2 linked regions of the Homo sapiens genome follow. The protein of the gene in region 1 purifies or fractionates together with the protein of each later gene. This does not show direct contact. Each region holds a gene or a part of one and is shown on either strand. Other genes may lie near its edges.

Evidence for each region.
Region 2: the proteins of SPRR2E (region 1) and ARID3C purify together in Homo sapiens (affinity purification with mass spectrometry; one large-scale study listed by BioGRID and IntAct). This does not show direct contact.

Annotation. Positions count from the first base shown.
Region 1 is NC_000001.11:153,092,463-153,095,886, forward strand, and holds SPRR2E (small proline-rich protein 2E), read right to left. Parts: upstream 2,065-3,424; 5' UTR 2,022-2,064; intron 1,309-2,021; 5' UTR 1,290-1,308; coding exon 1,071-1,289; 3' UTR 673-1,070; downstream 1-672. UniProt on the Homo sapiens protein: Cross-linked envelope protein of keratinocytes. It is a keratinocyte protein that first appears in the cell cytosol, but ultimately becomes cross-linked to membrane proteins by transglutaminase.
Region 2 is NC_000009.12:34,623,017-34,626,095, forward strand, and holds part of ARID3C (AT-rich interactive domain-containing protein 3C), read right to left. Parts: intron 2,799-3,079; coding exon 2,726-2,798; intron 1,032-2,725; coding exon 848-1,031; intron 699-847; coding exon 409-698; intron 1-408. UniProt on the Homo sapiens protein: Transcription factor involved in monocyte-to-macrophage differentiation.

The sequences.
Region 1 (3,424 bases):
GAACCAATAAAAACAGAGTCTTCGATAGCATTAGGAGTTATACCTAATGCTAAATGACGAGTTAATGGGTGCAGCATACCAATATGGCACATGTATACATATGTAACAACCCTGCATATTGTGCACACGTACCCTAAAACTTAAAGTATAATAATAATAAAATTTAAAAAAAAACAGAGTCTTCTTATTTTTTATATTAGTTACATCCAAGCCACTCTATTGCTGGAACAAATATGGTAGTGGTTGTCATGGGGAGTGATGATGATGATGATGATGATGGTGGTGGTGGTGGTAATGGTGGAAACAATGATGATATGTTACTGCCAATAAACTTCTAAAATGACAGCTAATTATGTGTCAGGCATTGCGACAACAAAATTTCAGATAGTAATTAGATTTATCCCAAGACTAGTTTGTTAAGTAAATGTTATTTTGGTCGCTTTGCAATAAAGAGATTGACATTCACAGAAGTTGAATAATATGTTCCTCAAATCAATCAAACACTAATTAAGGAAAATAAAAGTGGTTTAAATAATACAGACATAATCTTTGATATGACCCAAATTTTAAGATTCTGACTGTGGTTGAAAGAAAGGTGGAAATAAACCCAAATGATTATATAATTTTACTAATAAAGCAGATTTGAAAAGAAACAAAAGATCCATTCACAAATACGTATGCAAAGATATTTTATTCAGGGAGTGAAAGAAAAGTGACAATTGCACAGGTGTTAGAAGCCCATGCCCAGGTGACAGACAGACACAGAAAACATCAACAGCATTTTTTGATGGTTCCCAGGGACAGAGCTGCTGGTCCTTCTTCCAAAGCTCTGGGAACTGACACTGCTGAGGACTTCCTTTCTCAGTCTCCACCTGGACAGTGGCAATATGGCAGCCTCAGAAAGGAAACCTTTTGCTATCAGGGATCATCATGGGCAGATCACTGGCTAAGAGGAAAGAAGCTAACTGTGTATCCATGGTAGGCTTTGATGAGAAGATGCAGGTGAAGCTGTGGAACAAGGTGAGCCAATTATCCTTATCCTTTCATGCTCCTGATGAATTCTGAAGCTGTTACTTGCTCTTGGGTGGACACTTTGGCTGGCAGGGTGGGGAAGGTGTCACAGGAGGACATTTTTGCTGGCACTGCTGAGGTGGGCAGGGCTGTGGACACTTTGGTGGTGGGCAGGGCTCAGGGCACTTCGGGGGTGGACATGGCTCTGGGCACTTTGGCGTGGGGCACACAGGAGGTGGCTGGCAGGGCTGCTTGCACTGCTGCTGTTGATAAGACATCCTGCTGGAGTCTCAGAATCTGAAAGAAATGATATGACAGTGTTCACAGGAATGGACTCCTCCAGAGAGAGAAGCCAAAGCTTATGTAATACCATGGCATATTATTTCTCCAATCTCCAAAAATTTATTTAAACTCTTAGCTCTCTTTTCATGACTTCCTGTCTTCTCCTTTCCACTTTAGCAAGTTGTTTCATCAGCCCTAGGAATTCCTGCCTTTCCTCATACAATTTTTCCAAAGAAAACATCTCTATAATAAAGAAGCAAGCATGTTATTCCATGAAAATGACATCTTCAGGAAAGGCAGTCACAAGTTCAGACCTCCTGGGCAATCTCACAAGCTATTCCTATCATCATTATCTGTTGTAAAGCACCAGTGGGTTGACTTGGGCACAGAGCAAGGGCTGTTCAGGAAGAAGTACTGGCTCTCACACCTGCTAAGACACAAACCTTTGAAAAGGATACCAGGAAAATATGGAAAAGAGAAAAATACTTCATCCCTTTCTTCAAACCAAAACTTTCCTATTAACTTCTCTGTCCATATGGACATATAATTGTACATTTTTTAAAAATCTGTGTAAAACACTGTATCATGTAATCTAATCCTGTAGTTCCATCAACTAAGTACCATCAAACCTATGATCACAGGTTTGGATCCACCAAACTTGCTGGATTCAGGTTAAATTCAACACTTCAGGGCACAAAGAACAGAGGAACTCAAGGAAGCAGACTCACCAGGTTCTCCAAAGCAGATCAGTGCTCAAGTACCAGGAGTTTAGGAGTTGTAGAGCAGAGAACCTCTTTATAGGGCCTGCTACCCCACCCAGCAGGAAGTGGAACTACCCAAAACTGGGCTGGCCCAGCAATGTCCCAACTAAAATGCAAATCTATCCATAACTGGCATGACAGGGATTCTCAAACTGGGAAATATCCTGTTCTGGGATCTTTCCACTGGATTAAGTGCCCTGACTCACTGAGGCCCTGCCTTAGATCTCAGTTTCAGTGACAGCAAAGAGGGACTTGGGGGATTCTCTAACTGGTGGTCAAGGGCTCTCTTTCTTGATTGGGGGCAATGAATGCTTCCTGTCTTACACATTCCCTAAATCATAAAACTTCCTGCCCTGATCCACTTTAGCTGAATGCCATATTGTTTGTACATGAACCCATCTCCACCTCTACTTTCCTTGTACAATTTGCCAATGTGCTAGAAGGAAGGAGAGACCTAACAAAGGCCTGAGTTCTGGCCCCAGATTTTTTTGCTAAGCTGTATGACCACAGCCAGGTCAACTCTCCTCCCTGGAACTGTAAACAGAAGAGCATCTTATTTACCTCTGGGTTTGGAGGCACTGACCACATTGTGCCATCTGTTGATCCTGTTCAAGCCTGAAATTTTCTGCTCCACCTCTTTCTCTTGCAGAAACCCAGATTTTACCTATATTCCTTTCCTCTTTGAGGGTTGTCTTCTACAACCCTCAAAGAGGCACTTGTGTCCCAAGATAGATACCAGAGTGAGATCCAGTCTCTCCAGTACATTTGCCACTGCTACCATCAAGGGAGTGTACTACAGGCTTTTCATTTGTAAAACTGTACTCTTATTCACCACATTAAGAAAATGGAGAAAAGGGAACCAAAGTTACAAGCATTCATTTTAAATCTATGTATTGAACCATGCCTGTATGTTTCCCTGTGAACATCATATAGAGAACAAGATGCATAGACTCACAGTATCTTATGTAAATAATTAGAAGTTTTCCAGAATAGAGGTCAGAGCACTTAAAGTCTGAAATCTAGGGGAAAATATAAACTCAGTGTGATCCTATGTGTTTGCTTTCTCTACCTCTCTTTCCAAACAGGTTTTAGTCTTTGAAAAATGGTATTTTTTAATTTGTTTGTATGTTCTTCCATTGTCTTTTCCAAAAGCTCTCTAGCCCCACAACCTGCTAGATTATCAACTCACACCCCAATGTATACCTCTCATCTGTTCATTTTAGTACACATTGTTCACTCGATACGTATGTTGTCAATGTGAATGTCTTTCACATCTTTTTAAAACTCTTCCTGCAATCAATGGGGCTTACTAAACATTGTATATTAAACATTTAAAACAGTGCTGCTGGAGCTTTCTTATCTGGGCTAAT
Region 2 (3,079 bases), on another chromosome or scaffold:
GCCCCTGTAGTCCCAGCTACTCGGGAGGCTGAGGCAGGAGAATCGCTTGAACCCGGGAGGCGGAGGTTGCCGTGAGCTGAGATCGCGCCACTGCACTCCAGCCTGGGCGACGGAACGAGACTCCGTCTCACAAAAAAAAAAAAAAAAGAAAAAAAGAAAAAAAAGGACCTTTTCCTGAACTTCAGCCCCTACACTTCAGTAACCCGTACCCCAGAGCTCTCATTTGGCCGCAAACCTCAGGACCCCTAAACCTTAGTGACCCCCAAACCTCAGAAGCCCGTCAGACCTTACTGCTCCCATACCTCAATGCCTCCCCAGACCTCAATCCTCACATTTTAATGGTTGCTATATCTTAGCGCCCACCTAAACCTCAGAGACCCCGAAACCTCTACCATTCTCCCCTCGCACCTTTCTTAATAGGGCTTGGACTCAGCTGAGCGCATGCATGCGCTGGCAGGCCGGAGGTGGAACCCTGGGCTGGGCCAGGGCTGGACTGGGTCGCCGGAGGGGCGGGGCCGGGACCCAAGGCTGGGTCCTGAGCGCCCCGAGGGGGCGGCCCTGCCAAGCCGAAGAGCGGAGTAGCGGTGTAAGCCTGGCGACGGCCCTCGCGCCGATTGCTGTCTATGGCGGCCTGGAGCTCCCCTGGGGAGCTGAGCGCTCGAGTCTCGCACTCGTACGGGTACAGGTACTTCATGTACCTAGGGGCGGACAGCGGGCGGTGAGTGTATGGGAGGCTGCACCCAGCTGGTCAAGTCCCACAGCCGGACGCCCGCCCGGGGACCCTCCCCCCTCCCGCCCCAGGCCGAACCCGTGCCCCCTTCCCTTCCGCTCCCGCCCCTGGCCTCACTGGGTGCGTAGAGTGAAGGCGGCCGAGGTGATGGTGGTGGGTAGGCTGAGGCCGCGCGTGACTTCCCGCCACACTTTGCGGTTGATGACTTCCACCAGGCCGCCCTTGGCGGTCACCAGGCGAAACAGAGCGTACAGGTCGAGCACCTGCTTCGCCATGATGGGCACGCGGTTCACTGGCGTCCCTGGTGGGGAGCGGGCTGCCGTCAGGACACTGAGACGAAGACCCTGTCTGCAGCATCCCCAGGGACTGATACAGGACGGGAGCCCCGGGGAGGGCGGGAAAGAGGGAGACTTGGGCGGAGCCCACAGAACCCCAGGGTCTCTGTTTTAGCAAGAAGGACAGGAGGCTAGAACGGGGGGGGGCAAAGTTCTGTAAAAGGCCAGATGGCTAAATGGTCTCTGTCACAACTACTCAACGCTGTCATTGTAGCCTAAAGGCGGCCATAGAGAATACCTGAAGGAATGGATGCGGCTGTGTTCCAATAATATAGACTCTGAAATTCGAATTTCACCAGTCTGGAGATGTTATTCATCTTTAAATTTTGTCCCCCAACTATTTAAACAAGTAAAAACCATTCTTATCTTGCAGGCAGCTGGGTTTGGCCTGCAAACTTTAGTTTGCTGTCCCCTGGGGTAGACCGCAGGAAGGACTTTCGGACAGTGCTGAAGAGCCGGCCTCCCCTAAGCAGCAGCCCCCGGGTGGCTGCCCAAGGCTGGGGGATGACGGGCGGGAAAAGAATCAACTCCCGCCTCGGCCCGCCGACTCCGCAGCCCGCGCCGCCCCCGCCGGCCAGTCCTGACAAAGGGGCCTGTCTGCGCTGAGCGATGGGCCCCAGTTAATTCCTTACCGATCCCGTCCCCTTCCGCCGCGCCTTTGGACCCGAACAATTAGCTGCGGCCTGATTAATGGGGGAAAATTATCGGCCCCGCGGGACCCCCTCCCCCTGCAGCTGGAGCGGTGGGAGGCAGGGACCGAAGGGAGGCAGGCAATGCTGGGATCGGTTCACACCCGCTACCCCAGTGGAGGGGAGGCCTCGAGGAAGGGCCAGAGAGGGAACACTGGAACCAGAATGGGCCTCCCTGGGAACCAAAAGGACTTAGGTCCCTACTGAGGGTCCCTGGGAAGGTAAGGGACCAGAAAGAGGTGCTGGGGTGAGGGCCGGGAGTGGGAAGTGGGCCAGCAGCTGCACTAAAGGCGGTGGGGGGGCGGGGGGTAACAGGGCAGCCAGTTAATTAGCGGCTTATCAGGCTGCGCTCTGAGTGAGTTAATTAGCTTTGCAGAGAGAGATAATGAGTCAGTGTTCGGTCCCATGAATCTGGGAAAAAGCTGAAGTGATGGACTGCCGCCCACCCTGATGCCCTCCTGGACCCTTCTTGCGTTCTCCTCCAGCTCTGACATTCCTGGAAAGGAATTTCTCCTCCTCCACAGCCTCAACTCACATAGTCCCCAGCCCACCCCTTGGGAAGTCCTTCCTTCAGTCTATTCCTAGTCCTTCCTGCTGTAGAGCACGTGAGGTGTCCCCTGCCTGAATCAAGGGAAAACAGGGAAGACATGGCTGGAGGAAGGACCCTGGACACAGAACCAAGGCATTCTCAGCCCTCTGATTCTGGGACCCTCCCACCCCAGGCCAGGCTCCCATCAGTTCCCCCTCCCACCCTCCCAATTGATCCCAAACTCATTAACCTGCCAGTGGGCTGGCCACTAATTAATCCTGGGGTGGAGGAGGGGGACAGGGTCAGAGGTTAAAGACGCTATCGAGGGCCCAAAGGACAGGTGCTGCCAAGCTCAGGCCTCAGCAGGGAGAACCCAACCGGGTTTCCTCAAACCTGGTAAGGGGGCAATTCCAGGGCCCTTCCCCCACATCATGCCACTCACCCCTCTTTTGCATGAAGCTAAACAGGTCATCCAGAAATTCCTTCCTCTTGGGGTCTGCATCGAGCTCATACAGCTGGGGAAGGATTGGGGTCATTCTACAGCTCTGCTGACTCCCCCTCCCTCCCTTGACCCCAATTCAGGTTGTACCCTGAACAAGGGTCCCTAGCTGAAGGAGTCAGTAGGATCTCAATGTGGACTCCCTGGGATTAGCATTAGGCTCTCTCCGCCTAGGGGCAGGCAGGGGTGCCTTTTTCTAGTACATACAGAGACTGGTACTGGTAGTGGTACCCTGGGCCATTCAAACCACCCATCTGGGGAGTAAGGGAAGAGAGGAACAGGATGGAGCTTGGAGGC